5 linked regions of the Homo sapiens genome follow. The protein of the gene in region 2 purifies or fractionates together with the protein of the main gene of each other region. This does not show direct contact. Each region holds a gene or a part of one and is shown on either strand. Other genes may lie near its edges. The genes, in order: COL21A1, COLGALT1, PRRC2C, PLOD2 and PYGL.

What was found.
Region 1: the proteins of COLGALT1 (region 2) and COL21A1 purify together in Homo sapiens (co-immunoprecipitation; one large-scale study listed by IntAct). This does not show direct contact.
Region 3: the proteins of COLGALT1 (region 2) and PRRC2C fractionate together in Homo sapiens (co-fractionation; one large-scale study listed by BioGRID). This does not show direct contact.
Region 4: the proteins of COLGALT1 (region 2) and PLOD2 fractionate together in Homo sapiens (co-fractionation; one large-scale study listed by BioGRID). This does not show direct contact.
Region 5: the proteins of COLGALT1 (region 2) and PYGL fractionate together in Homo sapiens (co-fractionation; one large-scale study listed by BioGRID). This does not show direct contact.

What each region holds. Positions count from the first base shown.
Region 1 is NC_000006.12:56,170,487-56,175,059, forward strand, and holds part of COL21A1 (collagen alpha-1(XXI) chain isoform a precursor), read right to left. Parts: intron 643-4,573; coding exon 474-642; intron 380-473; coding exon 163-379; intron 1-162.
Region 2 is NC_000019.10:17,561,504-17,566,076, reverse strand, and holds part of COLGALT1 (procollagen galactosyltransferase 1 precursor), read right to left. Parts: intron 1-4,573. UniProt on the Homo sapiens protein: Beta-galactosyltransferase that transfers beta-galactose to hydroxylysine residues of type I collagen. By acting on collagen glycosylation, facilitates the formation of collagen triple helix. Also involved in the biosynthesis of collagen type IV.
Region 3 is NC_000001.11:171,533,769-171,538,341, reverse strand, and holds part of PRRC2C (protein PRRC2C), read right to left. Parts: intron 2,915-4,573; coding exon 2,745-2,914; intron 2,314-2,744; coding exon 2,064-2,313; intron 1,080-2,063; coding exon 869-1,079; intron 1-868. UniProt on the Homo sapiens protein: Required for efficient formation of stress granules.
Region 4 is NC_000003.12:146,150,411-146,154,983, reverse strand, and holds part of PLOD2 (procollagen-lysine,2-oxoglutarate 5-dioxygenase 2 isoform 1 precursor), read left to right. Parts: intron 1-4,573. UniProt on the Homo sapiens protein: Forms hydroxylysine residues in -Xaa-Lys-Gly- sequences in collagens. These hydroxylysines serve as sites of attachment for carbohydrate units and are essential for the stability of the intermolecular collagen cross-links.
Region 5 is NC_000014.9:50,909,723-50,914,295, forward strand, and holds part of PYGL (glycogen phosphorylase, liver form), read right to left. Parts: intron 3,409-4,573; coding exon 3,307-3,408; intron 2,582-3,306; coding exon 2,434-2,581; intron 2,315-2,433; coding exon 2,256-2,314; intron 2,150-2,255; coding exon 2,008-2,149; intron 381-2,007; coding exon 173-380; intron 1-172. UniProt on the Homo sapiens protein: Allosteric enzyme that catalyzes the rate-limiting step in glycogen catabolism, the phosphorolytic cleavage of glycogen to produce glucose-1-phosphate, and plays a central role in maintaining cellular and organismal glucose homeostasis.

The sequences.
Region 1 (4,573 bases), on a different chromosome or scaffold from region 2:
TCCTTTCTTTGTTAGTTTTCTTCAACACAGAAACATTAAAATTTAAAGTAAAAATATTTCCAATCATGTTAAAATTATAGCCCTCTTTTCCCCAACACACATAAACCCAATAGTGCTTCCCCATGAATATCATAATCATGGTATTATCCCAGGCATCTTTACCTTAACTTGAGGGTTAGCAAAGGTAACCACTTGTGAGCCATTAATTACGCTGGTTGTTGTAAATAATAAGATTTTGTCCACACCATTTAAGGTAACTGCTATTTGTGGCCTTCCATCAATAGTTAATATTCTCCATAAATCCCAAATTTTCTTGACTTTAAATCTTTGAGTAGACACAAATACATATGATGGAGGAAGACCTTCTGGGAAAACATTGCTAGAAAAAGAAGAGCAAGTGTAAGCTTAAAGAATTCTTGACATGTCCACAGACATATCCCCCCAAAAAAGTTGTGTCAACATATAATGCATACCTTGTGAGTTCTGATAAATCAACTTTTGATGTTACTTCATATCCTTTTATCTTTTTTGGTGAAAGCTGTATTCTTTTCTTAACCTTTTTATTTACATCTAAACCTAAAAGAATATCAAATCCCCTTTCATCACGAGCTGCCACTGGAATTCGTGTTGGACAGACAGATTCTATAAAGCAAAAGCAATAAAAGTTGGTTAATCATGGACTATTCAAACAATAAAAGAAAAATCAAGGGAGAAATACTAGACAATATAGTATTCTATCATTAGAATTATAAAATCTACATATGTATACAAATGTATAGTATATAAATGTATATGAATACATTTTCTGAGAAAATGTAGAAGTATTTTACACATTTAAGAGTGAGATCTTAATATGCTTTTTTCTCTAAAAAATAAGGGATAAAAGTAAAACAAAAATATAAATATTTGTTAATGTATTGTCTTTAGCAAAAAATTGAGACAATAGCAATATGAGACAATATAACACCTATGGAAAAGAAAAACAATGGAACAGGATTTATCATTCTCATCCAGGATTTCCTATTAACTAGTCATACAACTTTGGATAATGCTTTTAATTTATTTAATTCAAAAATGAACACTAAAATTCTTTTCTTGCATTCTTAGCATTTAAGGGGTAAAAAGTATTTTCTGTTCTTGATTTTCTTTCCAGTTCAAGCAGCTTATATTTCTATAGCTCAAATATCATTAGTCTGTCTCTCTGGAAAAAACTTAACCTGGGTCCCATCTATTCATGAAAGTTCTTCAGACGGACATATTATCTCATCTATAATTATATATTAATCATACTTATAAAGAATATTTTCTTAAGAATAATCATTAGCATTACATAGTCAGCTATATAGGTAATAAGTATGATATACTTTAGCTGAAGTATACAATGACTGAAAAAATTTACTAAAGATGATTAATAGCAGACTTTAACAAGCAGAGGGAAAAGAATCAGCAAACTCAATAATTGGTCATTTGAAATTATCCAGTTAGAGAAACAAAAAGAAAAAGGAAGAGAAAGAGTGAAGAAAGCCTAAGAGATTTAAGCAACACCATCAAGCATACCAATATATGCATTTTGCGAGTTCCAGAAAAAAAAAAAAGAAGAGGGTGAAAAGGGGACAAAAAGCTTATTTAAAGAGATGAGGCCAACAACTTCCCAAATCTGGGAAAGGATATGGATACTCGAATTCAAGAAGCCTAATATATGCTAAGTTAAACCCAAAGAAATCCACACTGAGACACATTGTAATCTAATCGTCAAAAGTTAAAGGCAAAGATCACATTTTGAAAGCAGCAAGAAAAAAGAGACTTGTTATGTACAAGGGAACCTTGATAAGACTATCAGCAGATTTCTCAATAGCACCATTGCAGGCCAGGAGTGGGATGACATATTCAAAGTGCTGAAAGGAAAGAAAAAACCTGCCAAACAAGAATGCTATGTCTGGCAGAACTGTTCTTCAAAAATGAAGGAGAAATAAAGACTTTTCTAGATAAACACAAGCTGAGAAAGTTCATCACCATCAGACCTGCCTTATAAGAAATTCTCAAGGAGTCCTTCAAGATCAAACAGAAGTATACTAATCAGCAACATAAAAGCATAAGATAGTATAAATTTTTCAGATAAAAGTAAATATATAGACAGACACACAATATTATAATACTGTAACAGTGTGCATAAATGACTTTTAATTCTGGTGTAAAAGTTAAAAGACAAAAGCATTTTTAAAAACTGTAACTTTAAAAATATGTTAACAGATATAAAATATAAAAAGATGCAATTTGTGGCATCAGTAACAAAGGACAGGTAGCAAAAATATAGAATATTTATATGTAATTTAATTTCATACCAACTTAAAATAAGTTGTTATAATTACATGATGTTTCATGTAACCCCTATGATAACCTCAAAGAAAATACCTACGGAAGATAAATAAAATGATAAAGGACATCACTACAAAAAAAGCAATAAAACACAAAGGAAGACAGTAAAAGAAAAAAAGAGGGACAAAAAGCTACAGGAAAGACAGAAAATAATTACCAAAATGGCAACAATAATTTTTCCCTATCAGTAATTACCTTAAATGTAAGTGAGTATACTCCTTAATCAAAGTACATAGAGAGACTGAATGGTTTAGAGCTACAGATCCAGCTATATACTATCTATGAAAGACTCTAGCCTGGGCAACATGGCAAAACCCCATCTCTACAAAAACAAAAACAAAAGCAAACAAACAAAAAACAACAAAATTAGCCATGCATGGTGGCATGTGCCTGTAGTCTCAGCTACTCAGGAGGCTGAGGTGGGAGGATTGACTGAGTCTGGGAGGTTGAAGCTGCAGTGAGCTATGATCATGCCACTGCACTCCAGCCTGCGCAACAGAATGAGACAAAGGAAAGGGAAAGGAGAAGGGGAAGGGGAAGGAAGGGAAAGAAAGGGAAGGGAAGGGGGGAAAAGGGAAAAGGGAAAGGAAAAGAAAAGAGAAATGAAAAGGACTCACTTTAAATTTAAGGACACACATAGGCTGTAAGTGAAAAAATGAAAAAAGATATTCCATGCAAATGGTAGCCAAAAGACATCAGAGATGTCTATACTTATATCACACAGTACAAAACTATAACAAGAGACAAAGAAAGATATCCTACTATGATAAAAGGGTCAACTCACCAGGAAGATATAATAATTATGATTATATATGCAGCCAACATCATGATAACAAAAATACGAGGCAGACATATACAGAACTGAAGGGAGAAATAGAAAGAAACACAATAATAGTAGAGGATTTCAATAATGATTAGAACATTCAAACAGAAGATCAATAAGGAAATAGAAGACTTGAACAATACTATAGACCAAATGAACCTAGCAGATGCATACAGAATATTCCACCAAACAGCAGCAGAATACACATTCCCTTCAATTGCACATGAAACATTCTCCAGGACAGACCACATGTTAAATCACAAAACATGTCTTATTTAAGAAGGCTGAAATCATACCAGTATATTTTCCAACCACAATGGAATAAAACTAAAAATTAACAACAGGAGGAAAATTGAAAAATTCACAAATATGTAAAAATTAAATAGCACACTTTTGAATAGCCATCAGGTCAAAGAAGAAATCAGAGACAAAGTTAGAAAATACGTGATGACAAAATCACAACATCCAAAATTTATGAGATGCAGGAAAACAGTACTAAGAGAGAAGTTTATAGCAATAAATGCCTACATTAAAAAAGAAAAAGGATATCAAATAATCAAATAAACAACTTTATACCTCAAGGACCTACAGAAAAAAAAGACAAACTAAGCCCGAAGTTAGCAGGAGGAAAAAAATAATTTAGATTTAAGCAGTAATAAATAAAATAGAAAATGGAAAGAAGTCAACAAAGCTAAGAGTTGCTTTTTTGGAAAAATCAACAAAATTGACAAACCTTTAACTAAATTAAGTAAAAACAGAGAAGACTCAAAACAGGAAGTGAAAGAAGAGATATTACAATTGATGCCACAGAAATAAAAAGGATTTTAAGTGACCACTATGAACGACTATATATCAACAAATTGGTAACCTAGAAGAAATGAATAAATTCCTAGAACATATAACCTACCAAAACTGAAACATGAATAAATAGAATATATGAACATACCTATAACTAGAGATTAAAGGAAATTAAATCAGTAATCAAAACACCCCAACAATAAAAGCCTAGTACCAGGTGGCTTCAGTGGTGAATTCTACCAGACATTTAAAGAAGAATTAATATCTTTCTTAAGATCTTTCAAAAAATTGAAGAGGAGTAAACACTTCTAAACTATTTTTATAAGGCCAGCATTAACCTGATACCAAAGCCAGAAAAAGATACCATAATAAAATAAAACTACAAGCCAATATCCCTGATGAATATAGATGTAAATATCCCCAATAAAACACTAACAAACTGAATTTAACAGCACATCGAAAACATCATACACCATGACCAAATGGGAATTATCCACAGGATGAAAGAGTTTGACATATAAAATCAATAAATGTGTCATTGACAGAATGAAGGAAAAGATAACATGATCATCTCAA
Region 2 (4,573 bases):
TTTTTTCTTTTACTGCTGGTCCACAGAGATGCTTTCTGTTACCCAGGCAGTATCGTTTAGAATATTTGGATTAACTGCCATGAACAACAACAAAAACTAGAATTCCAGTATCCCCTGGCAACGTGAGAATACCATTTCCACATGGCAACCTTCAGTTGCAGAGGGGAGGTGGCTGGGTCTTAGGACAAGCCCTGTGGTCATGTTACACACCCCATCCGGTCCCTCTGGATGTTTGAATCTGTGACCTTTGAATATTAATGCAGAACAAACAGCCAGATCACTGTGGCAGTTCCTCAAAAAGCTAAACATAGAATTACTACATGATCCAGGAATTCCATTCCTAGGTATGAACCAAGAGAATTGAAAGAAAGGACTCAAACAGCTTCTTTGTTTGTTTGTTTGTTTTTGAGACAGAGTCTTGCTCAGTCACCCAGGCTGAAGTGCAGTGGTGTGATCTCGGCTCACTGCAACCTCCACCTCCTAGGTTCAGATGATTCTCCTGCCTCAGCCTCCTGAGTAGCTGGGATTAAATACAGGCGCGCACCACCATGCCCAGATAATTCAAACAGGTCTTTGTACGCTCATGTTCATGTCAGAATCCCAACAGCCAGGCCGGGTGCAGTGGCTCACACCTGTAATCCTAGCACTTTGGGATGCCAAGGCAGGCAGATCACATGAGGTCAAGAGTCCAAGACCAGCCTGGGCAACACGGTGAAACCCCGTCTCTACTAAAAATAAAAATAAATAAAAATAATTAGCCGGGCATGGTGACACATGCCTGTAATTTCAGCTACTCGGGAGACTAACGCAGGAGAATCGCTTGAACCCAGGAGATGGAGGTTGCAGTGAGCCGAGATCGTGCCACTGCACTGCAAACCTGCGCGACAGAGCAACACTCTGTCTCAAAAAAAAAGTCTCAACAGCCAAAAAAGGTGGAAGTGACTGAAGTGTGTCCATCAACGGATGAGGAGATCAACATAACGTGGTCCACCCAGACAACGGAATAAGAGTCAGCCATACAAAGGAAGGAAGCACTGATCCAGGCTGTAATGAACCCTGAAAACTCAATGCTGAGTGAGAGAAACCAGACACGAAACGCCATATAGTGTGACATTCCATTGACAAATCCGTAGACAGGAAGCAGATTAGTGGCTGCCAGAGCCTAGGGGAGAGGAATGGGGAGTTGGGGAGTGACTGCTGATGGGAATAGGGTTTTCTTTCTGGGGAATGAAAATGTTCTAGAATTAGAGGTGGTGGTTGCAAAACAAATAAATATATATGTGAACTGACTTCAATTAAAACAAACAAGAAAGAGGAGAAAGTGAATCTCTCCAGGAGATACAATTAAAATTTAGATGCTGGCCAGGGGCGGTGGCTCACGCCTGCAATCCTAGCACTTTGGGAGGCTGAGGCAGGTGATCACTTGAGGTCAGGAGTTCAAGACCAGCCTGGCCAACATGGCGAAACCCCATCTCCACTAAAAATACAAAAACTTAGCCAGGCATGGTGGCGGGCACCTGTAATCCCAGGTACTCCGGAGGCTGAGGCAGGAAAATTGCTTGAACCCAGAAGGCAGAGGTTGCAGTGAGCCGAGATGGCGCCACTGCACTCTAGCCTGGGTGACAAAATGAGACTCCATCTCAAAAAAAAAAAAAAAAAAAAAGTAGATGTTTTTCTTTCTTGTTTCATATGTATATCTATATTATACACACACACACGTATATATGTTTATATACATATATAGATATATATACATATACACGTATATATGTATATATGTATACACACACGCACACACATACACACACACATACACATATACGAAGCTTAAGAAAGGGTCTCGCTCTGTCACCCAAGCTGGAGTACAGTGACACAATCATGGCTGATTGCAGCCTCCTACTCCTGGGCTCAAGCAATCCTCCCACCTCAGCCTCCCAATTAGCTGGGACTACAGACACAAACCAGTACACCTGGCTAATTTTTTTTTTTTGTTAGTTTTTGTAGAGATGGGGGGGGTCTCACTATGTTGCCCAGGCTGGTTTTGAACTCCTGACCTCAAATGATCCTCCCACATTGGCCTCCTGAAGCACTGGGATTACAGGCGTGAGACACACCCAGCTCGTATATTTTTATTTATTTTTTTTACCTGCAAGTAACATCCATAGCTTTTGTAAAAAGAGAGAGAAAGGGGGACCTTCAAACAATCATTTTAAAACATTAGACAAACTATTTCACATTCCAATATGGGTTCCAAAGTCCCCAGTTACAAAAATATAATTTTGTGACCAGGCGCAGTGGCTCACACCGGTAATCCCAGTAGTACTTTGGGAGGACGAGGTGGGTGGATCACCTGAAGTCAGGAGTTCGAGATCAGCCTGGTCAGCATAGTGAAACCCTGTCTCTACAAAAATACAAAAAAAATTAGTCGGGCCAGGCGCGCTGGCTCACGCCTGTAATCCCAGCACTTTGGGAGGCCAAGCCGGGTGGATCACGAGGTCAGGAGATCGAGACCATGCTGGCCAACACGGTGAAACCCTGTCTCTACTAAAAATACAAAAAATTAGCCGGGTGTTGTGGCGGGCGCCTGTAGTCCCAGCTATTCAGGAGGCTGAGGCAGGAAAATGGCATGAACCTGGGAGGCAGAGCTTGCAGTGAGCTGAGATCGCACCACTGCACTCCAGCCTGGGCGACAGAGTGAGACTCCGTCACAAAAAAAAAAATAGCCGGGCATGGTGGCAAGCATCTGTAGTCCCAGCTACTTGGGAGGCCGAAGCAGGAGAGTCACTTGACCCCAGGAGGTGGAGGCTGCAGTGAGCCAAGATCGCGCCACTGCACTCCAGCCTGGGCGACAGAGTGAGACACTGTCTCAAAAAAAAAAAAAAAAAAAAAGAAACACGAAAATATTATTTTGTGTCAAAAGCCACTTTGAGTTTTGAACCAGCACTTTGAGTTCCACCCCGGTTTGCTGAGGGAAAAAAAAGCTAAAGCCAGGCAACCTCAAACCACAAAAGCAAAATCCTAGAGGCAGGACAAGGCAGCTTTGTGTCAGAAGGCTCTGGAAGGCTCCAGATCCACCTCTCTGCCTCCTTGCCAGTTCTGACACCCCACCAGGCAAGATGTCCCCTCCGTCAGCCTGTTTCCTCACCTATAAAATGGTCTGATAAGGCACCAAGCGAAAGGGTCCCCTCAGGAGCTCCATCCGTCCTCCCTAGATGTGGCACTGTCCCCGTTCCTCTCTCCCTGGCACCTTCACATCCAGTGTCAAAGCAGAACCTGTCTCCTTCACCTCGTGACGCATCCTGAACCCCCTGCCTTTCTCCACGGCCCCCACCCCATGCAGGCCTGTCCATCAATCGCTGATACCCTGCTTGGGCCTCTACTCCAGCTTCCTGCTAGTGTGTGGCTTTTTTTTTTTGAGACATAGTCTCACTCTGTCGCCCAGGCTGGAGCGCAGTGGTGCAATCTCAGCTCACTGCAACCTCTGCCTCCCGGGTTCAAGACATTCTCCTGCCTCAGCCTCCCAAGTAGCTGGGGTTACAGGCGCGCATCACCATGCCAAGCTAATGTTTATATTTTGGTAGAAACAGGGTTTCACCATGTTGACCAGGCTGGTCTCAAACTCCTGAAGTCAAACAATCCACTTGCCTCAGCCACTCAAAGTACTGAATTTAGAGGCATGAGCCACCGCGCCTGGTCCACAGAGGCTTCTGAAAATCTCAAATCAGAACACAGACCTCCCCTGCTCACACACCCTCCATGGCTCCCCATTCCCCTCCAAGTAGACACCAAGTGCCTCCACTGGCCTGTGTAGTTGGACCTCTAGCCACCACTGCATCGTAATCACTTTGCTCACTTGACTCTTTGCTTTTTCTTTTCTGCTTTTTGTTTGTTTGTTTTAAGAGATGGGCTGGATGTGGTGGCTCACACCTATAATCCCAGCACTTTGGGAGGCCGAGGCAGCTGGATCACCTGAGGTCAGGACTTTAGAGACCAGCCTGGCCAACATGGCGAAACCCCGTCTCTACTAAAATTACAAAAATTAGCCAGGCATGATGGCGGGGGCCTGTAATCCCAGCTACCCAGGAGGCTGAGGCAGAAGAATTGCTTGAACCCAGGAGGAGGAGGCTGCAGTGAGCCGAGATTGTGCCACTGCACTCCAACCTGGGCAACAGAGACTCTGTCTCAAAAAACAAGAAAAAAGAAAATCAGGAGAATATAGAAAAGTATGAAGGCTGAAATAACATTTGGGGTTGATCATAGAAAACTGTGTAATGGGTTCAATGTATATTATTTAGGGGATGGACGCCCCAAAATCTCTGACTTCACCACTTCACAATCTATGCATGTAACAGAATTACACTTGTGCTCCATAAGTTTATACAAATTAAAAAATAATAGTAATATTCAACCTATAAGTCTGTTTTTTTTTTTTTTTTTTTTTTTTTGAGACAGAGTCTCATACTGTGGCCCAGGTTGGAGTGCAGTGGCGTGATCTTGGCTCGAGAAAAAAATAAAAAGACTCAACTGTTCCCTTCCCCATGAGACAATGTCCCCACAGGAGGAGGAAGTGCAA
Region 3 (4,573 bases), on a different chromosome or scaffold from region 2:
ATTATATAAGCATTGTAGATACACCTAAATTTCTTCACACCTACTCTACAATAAAGACATCCCAAGTGGCTGCACACGATGGCTCACGTCTATAATCCCAGCACTTTGGGAGGTAAGGCAGTCAGACTGCTTGAGCCCAAGAGTTCAAGACCAGCCTGGGCAACACGGCAAAACCCCATCTCTATAAAAAATACAAAGATTATCACAAGGTCAGGAGATCGAGACCATCCTGGCTAACACGGTGAAACCCCGTCTCTACTAAAAATACAAAAATTTAGCTGGGCGTGGTGGCGGGTGCCTGTAGTCCCAGCTACTCAGGAGGCTGAGGCAGAAGAATGGTGTGAACCCGGGAGGCAGAGCTTGCAGTGAGCTGAGATCGCGCCACTGCACTCCAGCCTGGGAGACAGAGCAAGACTCTGTCTCAAAAACAAAAACAAAAACAAAAACAAAACAAAAAACCCCACAAAGATTAGCGGGGTGTGGTGGTGAACGCATGTAGTCTCAGCCACTCAGGAAGCTGAGGTAAGCCGATCACTTGAGCCTGGGAGGTGAACGCTGCAGTGAGCCAAGATCATACCAACGCACTCCAGCCTGAATAACAGAGCAAGTTCCTATCTCAAAAAAGAACCTACCAATTTCAACATCTAATACTAAATTACAGCATACAATTGAGTACAGAACCAGGTTACAAAATGCCCTAATGAATACAGAGAATATGTCCAAAGAGTAAGCGTAGCATGCTAAATTAAATAGAAGGAAACCAGATTTATGCTTCAGTCCTAAATTGGAATGATCTTCAGAAACACTACACAGTTTTCCTTTTACCAAAATATTCTGTATCATCTATTAAATTGAAATAATTTATTACCTTACATCCTCAGGCTCTTCTGTTGCTTTGGGAGTAGTTGCTTGTTGAGGCTCAGCATGAGGATAGGGATCTGACCCCCACAGCATACGAGGCTCAGAAAGGGAAATTGCGTGATCTCTTGCAGATCGAGCTATATGCTCAAATGACTCAGAACTGTTCGGTGACCCTTCCATCTGGTCTCTTCTCATTAATGGTTTAGGAGGAATCATTCCTGTAACAAAAGTTCAGAAAAAGGTGAAATGAGGATTTTGAAAAATGAACGAAACAAAACCATGATAGACATAGAATACAGGTTATTAATTGTTAGGTGGAATTCTCCATATTAAAAGCATTTTTTTCCTGAGTAAAAGATTGGTGGAAATTATGTAAGGGTTGTTCTGTGAATGGAATTTTATTACTGCTGTTAAATAAAAATTGCATTTAAGAACTGAGGAAGCAAAATAAGCAAAATCACAATAGCAGCCTGTTTTACTTCAAAAGAAAGAAAATATTATGCATATAAAAATCAGACACCAAGTACTGTGACTCTGGATGTCAATACAAACATCATGAAAATTATACTATGATAACTTTCAGAGAAAATTCTTTCCTAAATTCCATTAACCTACCTTAGTTGGTCAATATTCTACAAAATATGCCACTTAAATTTCCAAATACCAGTATAAATGTAAAAATCAAAACATGATTTGTGATCAGCTTATCATCCCTAAATTTTCCTCTGTAACATTTTGGTAATAGATTATCTTGATTTATTCTGATGGATTCCATAAAAGACTGCTAATTCACTTTTTTTCCCCCTAACCTAAAAGGAAATTCAAGTGTTAGGTTGGTAAATGATGGAAGAAGAACTTGAAAAGGAATATATATAACATATGGACAAAATTCAAACGCTGAAAACACTTTAAAGAAGAACAACAATGTAGCCAATAACAAATACTGTTAATAACACATAATTATTTCCATCTGAAGTTTTAAATAATACTTACAAAACAGAAATGAACTAGTATTTTGTTCTTGCCACATAAGTAATATGAGTGTCAGATATTTAATTACTCGATGCTGAAAGTTACATCATTTTGATTAAAAATCGGAGGTTTAAGTTTTTCCTAGATTACAACTCTCAAAGGAACTGAAACTAAAAGCAGGGAAAAAAAAATTTTGATCCTGTAAAACTATAAATGCAAATTCAACTGACCAGGATGAATGGGTGGAATATCCATAGCAGGTCTTCCTGACATCATTCGAGGATCCATGTAGGACTGCATCATGAGCCACCTTGGATCAAAACCCATAGAAGCCAAATGCTGAGGATGAGGCTGCATAGGCTGATAAAGAGGTCTGTGTGGTGGAGGAGGGACAGTACTACTGGACGGTTGTGAAGGAACAGTCTGTGGAAGTACACCTTGCTGTTGCTGCTGCTGCCACTGCTGCTGTTTCATCTGTTCCTGAAAAAGTAAGATCCCATATCTTGAGAGTTTAGTTCCACATGACAAATTAACATAATCAATCATATCACAAAATAATGGCCTGTTTTGAATCCTTGAAGGAAAAGTAAGAGTTCAAAAGGTATTTAACAGTTAAGAGTTGGCAAGACAAAAAACTGAAAGATGAACTATAACATTTTACCTTATACTCAAGCACTGTATGATCTATCTCCTAGAAATGGAAGATGGTGTCTATAAATGAGGCAGAAGATCAAAAGGAATGACACAGAAGGTCAAGGTAAAACCCACGTTAACTTTTATTTACAAGGAAAAATAATTTCAAGGGAACTTTGTGTGCTTTACGTATTATCAGTTTTATGTCTAATTTCCCAGACTACTGCATAATAAACCACTTCAATCACACATACATGATAAAATATTTTTATCATTACCTGCTGCCGCTGGAATCGTGGAGGTAAAGACTTCTGAAACTGTTTGAAATAGCCAGATAATACAGCCGGCCGAGGTTGAGACCCTGATTCTGGTTCTGTTTCATGCACCACTGGTGTGGCTTCCTTTTCACTGCGATTGCTGTCTTGTCTAGTGAAAACGGGTTCCTCCTCTGCTCAAAGAAAAGGTGAAAGGTAATAGTATTCATCTATGACACTTATCAAACACAGGATTTTTACAAAGACTGAGGTATAATAAAAGTTAATGAGGAAGAAAATATCCTCGACACTCTAAAACATTATTTTCTACTTTAACATTGGTAGTTATCAATGAGGTAACATTAGATTATCAAAACCTTAGATTTCCTAAAAGCTGCATTCTTAGAGATGGAGAGCAGAGATCCAAATGCTTCATCATATAAAATCTATGTTTTTTTTTTTTAAATAATGAAACATTTCCAACTCCACATATTTTTTATTTGTTTCAATAAACATCAATGTAATTGTCAGTATTTACTGGTAGTTCATTAAAATCTACATGAAAACACAAATGGCCTATAAATACTTAAAAAGAGAGCATGTTGGTTTATTTAGTTATTTATTGGGTAAAGGGACTATTATCTGTAAGGAAAACTAATGAGTTTAAGTCTGAAGACAACAGAGTGATCACTAGTTATCTTCAAACATAATTCATTCTAGAATGTCATTTGTCACAATTACAAATCCACGCTTGTTACAAATTCTTTTCTCAAATGACTAGTAATGAATTTAAAATGGAAGTTTATCTCCCAATGTAAAAGCATGCTGTTAAGAATCACAAATAACATTTTTATTGCTTGGATTACATTCAATATTAAGAATGTTGTAAAAGAGTGAGCAGGTCATGGTGGTGCATGACTGTAATAACAGTAACTCAGGAGGCTGAGGTGAGAGGATCACTTTAGCCTGGGAGTTTGAGACCAGCCTGGGCAACACAGCCAAAAAAAAAAGAATGGAAAATAATATACTGGAGGAAAAAGAGCCACATAGGCACTGACTTTAAAATCACGTGTGTCTTGAGAACATCTCAGAGAGCATTAAAACAAACAAAAAAATTGTATGTGTCTAGTATCAGAATTGAGGGGGGAAAAAAAAATCACATGGGTACATCTCACTGATAAACAAGCTAAAATTAAATTGCCATGAGAGAGAATATATAAAATGTGAATGAAAATAAAAGCACAAATAAAACTTATTAAACTATGATAATGTTTTCCTTTCTCTTGTGAACACTTTATTTCACTATTTTGGTGTTATGAGCAATCTTCATAAGTACTTATGTAATATAAGCCCACTATTCAATAGCAAAGTCTCTCTAGATTGATTAATATGAAAAAAATCTGAAATCTTAGAGTCTTAACAAATGGTCCATACAGGCCTTATTTCATTAAAAAAATTAAAGATAAAATACTCATACTCCTTTATAGTTAAATTAAGAGCCAAGTTTGAAGGTAACCCTGCATATAAATAAAAACTTTATTTTTAAAAACACATTCTTATTATTTTAAGCAGCAGTGCCTTGTAGAAAAGAGCATGAGACGTCAGGTTAGAAAACTTACAATATTTCCACATCAGAAAATACACTGAAATAAAACTGCATTTCTATTTTAATTCAAGTCGTTCATTAAAACTAAACTTTAGGCTGGGCGCGGTGGCTCACGTCTACAATCCCAGTACTTTGGGAGGCCGAGGCAGGCAGATCACGAGGTCAAGAGATTGAGGCTATGCTAGCCAACATAGTGAAACCCCGTCTCTACTAAAAATACAAAAATTAGCTGGGTGCGGTGGCACGC
Region 4 (4,573 bases), on a different chromosome or scaffold from region 2:
ATTCAAAGAGCAAAGATACATCGTTTTTATACACAAAAGGAAGATTTTCATTACAGATTTTCTTTTGTGTATTAAAAGAGGGAAGTGTACTTTTGTTAATTTTAATTTGGTTTTCTTCAAAACAATACAATCAGGTTTATGCATTTACATACTTAGTTACTGATTGACTCATGCATTTTTTTCAGGCCTTGATTGTTTTAGTAGCACATTGTGGCAGATTTAGGAAAATAAAAATCATTTTAAAATTTCTATTAAAATATGGATATACTCCCCCTTTCTTGAATTTATTTCTTAAAGGAGATGTGATTAAGTGAGAAAATGCTTAATTTGTTAGTGTGGAAATATGCTTCATGTTTACAATTTCTTTTCCGCTATAAGAAATTAGGTTTAAAGTTTAGTTTGTATAGGTTTGTAATTAAATTTTAACCAGGAAAAAATCTATAAATAGCAACTGGATAACCTTTGCTCTTCATTTCAAGAGCAATTAACACTAACTTTTTTTTTTTTTTGCTGTTCTTTTTTATTATTAGTCTTCTCACAAGGGAGTATCAGTTTCTGTGCAAGTTCATGAGTGATGGGGATACTCCCCAGGCATTATCAATACAGAAGTGACAAGGTATACTACATTGGAGTGTCCTTTCCTTTTTTGGTTGAAGAACTACTGTATTTATAATAAAAATCTACACCAGAAGTTTAAAGAAAAAACCGTATTTCAAGTTTGAATACAATAAAGAACATGATTATTACTGTAAATATACTCAATAGACTTTTAATACAAATAAAAGTCTTGGTGAACATATGGCTAAAATGAGGGGCTACTTGAGGCAGGAAAGTGGTCAGGAAAAGTGTTTCATATAAACATTGGTGAATTTTCAAAAATGGGCCAGAGTTGAAATTAAATATCATTTGTTACACTGATAGTTTATTGATTTTAATATTGCTTTTATTATCTTGTGTGCATAAGACATCCTGGTGCATTAACTAATCATCTGCTCATTTAATTTGGGGTTATATTCTCAAATTTTTACAAAGAACTTTCTCATTTGCTTTCTAGTTACTGCTAACCTATTTTAGGGTTCCTTCCAAACGGTAGGTGAGAGATAGGACTTTCCTCTGATTTAAATGCTGTTTTTCTTATCTTTTTTTTTTTTTTTGTGCTGTGGACAGGTAAAAATTCTTTATGGAACAAAGGAATTTTCAAGTACACATAATTTTTATTGTTCTTGACAGTACTCCTGGTCAGTCTCGGACACTCAAGTGCAGTAAGGAGATACTGAATATGCATCATGCTCCACAGCTTGACCCTCCCACAGGCACAGCAACAAGCGAAATAGATATGTGGATTTTGGCAACCTTGGCTTTGTGATGCTAGGGCATCGATCTGGCCTGGGAGAAGAAAAGCTCCAGAAGCTATACTTTATTCCAGAGCCCCAGCACACAGTGTCTCATAGGCAAGGCTGCTCTGTCATTGACTATTCTGTTTTAAATGGTTTGAAGCCACAACTTTTGTGGGCTTTCAGGTGCGAAATACTTAACAGATGCTGCACACAGGGCTAAGAAGGGGGCCAGTAACATTTAGGTCTTTTAAAATGCATTCTCTAACAGGTTCTTTAAACATTTAAATCTTTCCTTCCTGTTTCTAGCAATGTACTAAACACCAACAGCTATCTCATCTTTAAAAATTCTGCAAATACAGAATTTAAATTATTTCTTTTTGAAAAAAGGAACCAGCTAACAGTTTGCTGGTAGACTAAAATGATCTCCATAATGTGATCACCTGGGGAAGTCTTAGAGCGCTGTTGTTATGAAGAGGGCGGATGGGTTCTTTGATGGGATTTTCCGGTCTTGTCCAAGCCAGCTCTGAGGCACCTTGTCTTCAGAGGCCTCTTCTCCTGCTCTGGCTATGCTGGTTCTTTCCTGGCCTCCAGCTGGCACCACAGTGGTGACCAGAATGCCCTGCTGGTCCAGGGCCTCTGGAATTCCTGCCGGCCACGTCTAGAGAAGGACAATCCTCCTTTTCTTCTTAGTTTAGTTTAGACAAGGTTGGAATTTTTTAAACAGTGACTTTACTAAGTAACCAAGGGCAAAACAAAACAAAACCTCACACTGGAAAATCACCGAAGCAAAGAAATGAACAGACTTACAAAGCAGAGATTCAGAGTTCTTACTCTTCTCTGACTTTGGTATAGTTCTGTATTGAAATTCTAAGATTCTTGCAGGGAAAATAATGTATATATAAAACTGAGCAAATCAAAGAAGCACTTATGGGTAAGCAACCTGGATACCTGCACACCCAGCACATTTTGAGGGTTCATGAATTCTGTGTCCTTGTCCAGCGTTTCTTTCTCCCCTCTTCACTCTCATTCCTCACTTCTTCCTACCACTTTCTTTTACACAGATGACTCTTCTCCATGATTGGAGTCCATGAGATCCATGGGTAGACAAGTGGTAATAGATGGTCTAGGTATATTTGTCATTTCTTAGGGACATATTACATTACATATTAGCATAACTGTAGCCATTGGACACTTAATTTTCTTCACTAGATAGAATTTTTTTTTTTTGAGACGGAGTCTTGCTCTGTCGTCCAGACTGGAGTGGAGTGGTGCAATCTCGGCTCACTGCAACCTCTGCCTCCCGGGTTCAAGCGATGCTCCTGCCTCAGCCTCCTGAGTAGCTGGCATTACAGGTGCGTGCCACCACGGCCAGGTAATTTTTGTATATTTAGTAGAAACGGGGGTTTCACCATATTGGTCAGGCTGGTCTTAAACTCCTGACCTCAGATGATCCACCTGCCTCAGCCTCCCAAAGTGCTGGGATTACAGGCATGAGCCACTGCACCTGGCCAATAGGTAGAAAATTTTTATGCTGTTGCCCATGACTATTTTTGTATTGCTTTAATTCTTGATTTTAGTAGCAGTTTGTGTATGCTTTTATAAACCTATATAATTTAGTAAATCTACATTAGTTTATTTAGCTAAGCTTTACAAATTCCCTCATAATACAACTTTTTTAGAGGTAACTAACAGCATTGTAAATTTTTAGATGCAAATGTATGCCAACAATAATTCCCATTGTGTAATACTGTGAAATTTTGGTAATTAATATTTTAAAAAATAATTGGAGTATTTATTGACTGGCTAGTCTGTGTTCTGTTGCTTTGTGTGAAGGAAAAACAGAAAAAACAAACCAGAATGAACAAACAAAAACCACACAAGGCTCAGTTCCTGTTCTGTATTGAAATTCTAAGATTCTTACAGGGAAAATAATGTATGTATAAAACGGAGCAAATCTGAGAAGCACTTACGGGTAAGCAACCTGGGCTGCAGGGAAGAACACACACATCTGGCATCAGGAAACCTACATCTAAGTTCTCATCCTTCCACTCACCAACCTTGAGCCGATTCTTGAGCCTCGTCAGATTTTACTTGTAATTTGTGATCCTTACAGTGCTGTGATTTGATGTCTCTTGACTTTTTTTTTTTTGAAACGGAGTTTCGTTCTTCTTGTCCAGGCTGGAGTGCAATGGCGCGATCTTGGCTCACTGCAACCTCCGCCTCTCGGGTTCAAGCGATTCTTCTGCCTCAGCCTCCTCAGTTGCTGGGATTACAGGCATGCGCTACTATGCCCTGCTAATTTTGTATTTTTAGAAGAGACCGGGTTTCTCTATTTTTGTCAGGCTGGTCTTGAACTCCCAACCTCAGGTGATCCGCCCACCTCAGCCTCTTGAAGTGCTGGGATTACAGGCGTGAGCCACCGTGCTTGGCCAATGTCTCTTGACTTTTAAGTGTCAGAATGGTGGTAGAGACAGAGTGCTGCAGGAATCAGAAAAGAGGTCTCAAGAAAACTTACTATTATTTGTTAGGCCAAAGAAGGCATAGATATAAGGTTGTTTTGTGTTTTAAATTCTACTTTTTCTACTGGTTGTTGTATCAAGATCTGGACTTGGCCAGGACTTGGTGTTGCTTTTTTCTCTTAATTAGCTTTTGATTTAGATGCAGGACAGTAGGCCAAGAATAACTAGAATTAAATTTACATTTAAAAAGGTTCCAAGTGTTTTTATATGAGAAGAGAAAACAAGTCTGGTGTTTTTATGAAGCTATTTTCTGTTTTCAGAGAGGAACCGTATCCTCTTCAGTACATTTAAATATTGTATGCTGTTAAAAAAATAAACTTATATTCATCTGTTTCAGTCCTGACCTTTAAGTCAAATAAATTAATAACAATTATGCTGGTAACTTTTTTTTTTAACTTTTATTTAGGGTTCAGGGGTACATGTGACGGTTTGTTACACAGGTGAACTCATGTAATGGGAGTTTGTTGTACAGACTATTTCATCACCCAGGTATTAAGCCCAGTACTCAGTAGTTATCTTCTTTGCTCCTCTGTCTCCTCTCACTGTCACCCTTAAGTTGAGCCCAGTATCTGTTGTTCCTTTCTTTGTGTTTATGAGTTCTCATCATTTAGCTTCCACATATAAGTGAGAATATTCGGTATTTGGATTTCTGTTCCTGTGTTAGTTTGCTAAGGATAATAGCCTCCAGCTCCATCCATGTTCTCGCAAAAAACATGA
Region 5 (4,573 bases), on a different chromosome or scaffold from region 2:
TTAATCTGTGGCCAGGAGGCTCTCCTGCCTCATCGTGGGAGATGTTCTGCTGCCACCTCTTATGTGATCCAATTTCAGTGGGATATCGGTGTGGGCAGGAAGCCCTCTGAGGTCACATACCTTCTAGGGGGGAGGGGCAGTCCTGCCTAGCAAAGAGAAGCTATTCTCTTACCCTTTCTTGTCCAAAGCAGCCACATCATCTATCCTCATGCCAAAGATGAACAGGTTCTCTTCCCCAGCTTCTTCTGCCATTTCCACATTGGCCCCATCCATGGTCCCGATAGTTAGGGCCCCATTTAGCATGAACTTCATATTGCCTGTCCCCGAGGCTTCGGTGCCTGCAGTGGAAATCTGCTCTGACAGATCTGTGGCTGGAATGACTGCAAGAAAGGTAAGTTAAAATTAGTAATTTTGTCTGTCTAGATCTGCTTGTATTGTATTGAAGCATTTATTAAGTTGGGCTGTTTTGATAATTAAAGTAATACATGCACATTAAGATAAACATTCAAATGGTCTAGAAGGCAGATCACACTCTTTCCCCTTGACTCAGGCAACCACTTTTGTCCATTTTATATGCTTGTATTTCTTTCTCGAGCTATAAACTTTGAAGAGTATCTATTGACTGCGACAAACATTGATACTACATTTCTCTTCTTCCTTTTATTCCTTCCAATTTTTGTTACAGTTTTATTTTTATTTCTTCTACTTTATAAAATATATTGAAATTTCTCTTTTTTTCTTTCTCTTTTTTGGTACAGGGTCTCTCTCTGTCACCCAGGCTGGAGTGCAGTGGTGCGATTACAGCTCTCTGCAGCCTTGACCTCCTAGGCTCAAGCAATCTTCCTGCCCCAGCCTCCCAAGTAGCTGCAATTACAAGCGAGCACCACCATGTCCAGCTAATTTTTTAAAATTTTTGTATGTATGGGGTCTCCCTATGCTGCCCAGGCTGAACTTCTCTCTCTTGATCCATAACATTCAGAGTGTCCCTCCAGGACTCCTCTTTGGCAACCTGAGGAGACTGGATTGTCTGCATTCCTTCTACTTCTCACCTCCTTCCTTCCACTTTTCCTGCAGGGAAATAAGCCACACGTAATTGAGGTGTGCCTGGGGCTAGACATCTAGCCTCTGACCTTTCAGGCTGATTTGCACGCAAATTAGAGCTGCCTGAAGCACTTCCTTTGACTACAAAGGTCAGGACCACTTTTCTGCTTTACTGTGAGAGCTTATTTGTGGATTAGATGTATCTTCTTTTGCATCCCTAGGAACCTGGCTCTTCTCCCTTTATGCAGAGAGTTCTTAAACAGTAACATCAGAGGACCTAAAAACACCACAAAAAGAAAAAGCTCCCTTTCTACCTTTTCAGTTTGGGAAGTGGGTGAATACACAGTTGGGCATTTGCATGTGGATGGTGCTCTGTGAGCTTGTGACCCAAATAACCAAAGGTCCCAGTGGAAGAGAAAGGGACACTGGCTTCTTGCCCATCTGGCTGTCCCCATGTGGGAGCATCATGCTTGATGCTGAAGTGCCCATGTGAGGCACATCTAAGCCTCGTGCTTTGGCAGCCTCACATCTGCCCTCATTTATTATTGATACAAGAGCAAGTGACAGCCCTTCTTCTCACAGGGTGACCAAAGAAATATCTGAAGACTGGGGATTTGGTGTTCTCTTGCAAAACTGGGGCTGGGAACTGAAGACCTTTCCTCTGTTTTATAGAGCGGGTTCTGAATGATGCTGAAACCCCAGGGCTGCCTCCCCCAGCACATAGCTCTCACTGGCTTGGAAGAAAATGTACTTGCAAGTATAATCCTGTGATACTGACTCCAGGACATCAATTTCATTGTGACTTGGGTCACTTTAAAACCTCTTACCGTAGGCCCTTATTCTGCACAAGAGTGACACCTTCTATCCTAAGTTACTAGCTCCTGGAGGTTGGCTGCCCCATCTTTCATACCATGTAATCTCTAGAGTTTGCCCTGGCCCCTGCATATTTTGCAATGAGGGTAGTACCTTTTTCAGCAAGAGATACTCTGTAGTTCTCCAAGAAGATGACTTTCAACTTGCTTCCAACCATAGGGTCATTGTTCACCACATCTGCCACTGAAGTGATCAGCTTTATGATCATTTTGGCCATGTGATATCCTGGGGCAGCCTTTGGGGAAGAAGGTCAAACGCATTGACAGAAGGCAGCCATGATGAAGTAGAAGAATGGCAAGAGATTAGAGCCCTCAAGTCCCCATTGAATAGATTCAACTTACTTTACCACCAATGATAACTGTCCTTGGCACGAATAACTTCTTAGGGTCTTTCTTAATGCCTGAAAAAGATGGAGAAGTGGATGAAATGGAAGACAGCTGACGGTCAGGGCAGTGAGACCTATGCTGAGTCTGCTGCTTCCACCTGCAAGGGGGCTTGTTGGCTACAGGGCTGACTCACGGTTGTACATCGTGATCACATGCAGACAGTTCAAGAGCTGTCGCTTGTACTCATGTATCCTCTTCACCTGGACATCAAACATGGAGGATGGGTTGATCTTCACTTTGTACTCCGTCTCCAGGAACTGAGAAAACTTCAGCTTATTCTCCTGTTAAGACAGTGCATGGTGCCAGAGCTCTTTTGGCCTAGAAGAATTGGGTGGTCTGGTTTTTCTTTTTTTTGAGACGGAGTCTCACTCTTTTGCCCAGGCTGGAGTGCAGTGGCATGATCTCAGATCACCGCAGCCTCCACCTCCCACATTCAAGCGATTATCCTATCAGGGATTACAGGTATACACCACTACTGCCTGGCTAATTTTTGTATTTTTAGTAGAGACGGGGTTTCATCATGTTGGCCAGAGTGGTCTTGAATGCCTGACCTCAGGTGATTCACCCTCCTTGGCTGCCCAAGTGCTAGGATTACAGGGATGAGCCACCGCGCCCGGCTGGGTGGTCTGTTTTTAAAAACTACAGGATAGGCCGGGTGTGGTGGCTCATGGCTGTAATCTCAGCACTTTGAGAGGCCGAGGCGGGTGGATCACTTGAGGTCAGGAGTTCGAGACCAGCCTAGCCAACATAGTGTAACCCTGTCTCTACTAAAAATACAAAAATTAGCCGGGCGTGGTGGCGGGCGCCTGTCATCCCAGCTGCTTGGGAGGCTGAGGCGGGATAATCGCTTGAACCTGGGAGGCGGAGGTTGCAGTGAGCCGAGATCGTGCCACTGCACTCCAGCCTGGGCAACAGAGCGAGACTCTGTCTCAAAAAATAAACAAAAACTACAGGATAAACTCTCACAGTGAGTGCCCAGGAGGGGACCCACACCTGGAAGGCTCACCTGCTTCACCTTGGCGAGTTCCCGGAGGAAGACATCATCACCCAGGAAGCTGTGGAGCTTCGTCAGCTGGCTCAGGTCTTTCACATAGTCTTCTCCAATTTTCTTTCAATTCAAAGGAAAAGATGACTTCAATTTGGGGATGGTAATCAAGTCCAAATGGGCAGTTTCTGTCAGTATTTCTCTCTGTCACCTACCACAGTGTAGTTCACGTATCACACAGAACATGGGATAGTTTGACTCAAAGAAGAGTCTATAAAGTCTATGTGAGAAGAACACTTTTGCTAGTATCTTAAATGTAGTTTCAGCAGTTTTTAAAAATTATTTTTATTTATTTATTTTTATTTATTTATTCATTTTTTTTGAGATGGAGTCTCGCTCTGTCGCCCAGGCTGGAGTACAGTGGCACGATCTCGGCTCACTGCAAGCTCCGCCTCCTGGGTTCATGCCATTCTCCTGCCTCAGCCTCCCCAGTAGCTGGGGCTACAGGCGCCTGCCACCACGCCTGGCTAATTTTTTTTTGTATTTTTAGTAGAGACGGGGTTTCACTGTGTTAGCCAGAATGGTCTCGATCTCCTGACCTTGTGATCTGCCCTCCTCGGCCTCCCAAAGTGCTGGGATTACACGTGTGAGCCACTGCACCCGGCCTAAAAATTATTTTTATTTTTATTTAATTTTTTTGGCGACAGGATCTCACCCTGTCACCCAGGCTGTAAAGCAATGTCGTGATCATAGCTCACTGCAGCCTTGACCTCCTGGGCTCAAGCAATCCTCTTGCCTCAGCCTCTGAGTAGCTAGGATTACAGGTGCATGCCACAACACCTGGCTAATCTTTTTATTTTTGTAGAGACGGGTGGTGGTGGTGGGGGTGGGTCTCATGTTGCCCAGGCTAGTTTCAAACTCCTGGCCTCAAGTGAGTCTCCTGCCTAGGCTTCTCAAAGCACTGGATTACATGCATGAGCCATCACACCCGGCCAGCTTCACTGGTATTAAAGTGTTAAAAACAGGAAATCTACTTATAAGAGTGACCAGGAACCCAGGTTCTGTTAGTTATTTATATGAGCTTTATTATCCTCTTTTACTAGAGAAAACCATCTTCTATGTGAGTGTCCTATGAATACTGTTAGCTGCAACTAGCTACATAATTTGCAGGACCTTTTGTTCAAAAATTAAGAATTTCAAGATGACGGCTATGTGTGATGGCTCATGCCTGTATTCCCAGCACTTTGGGAGGCCAAGGAGGAGCAGATAACCTGAGGTCAGGAGTTCA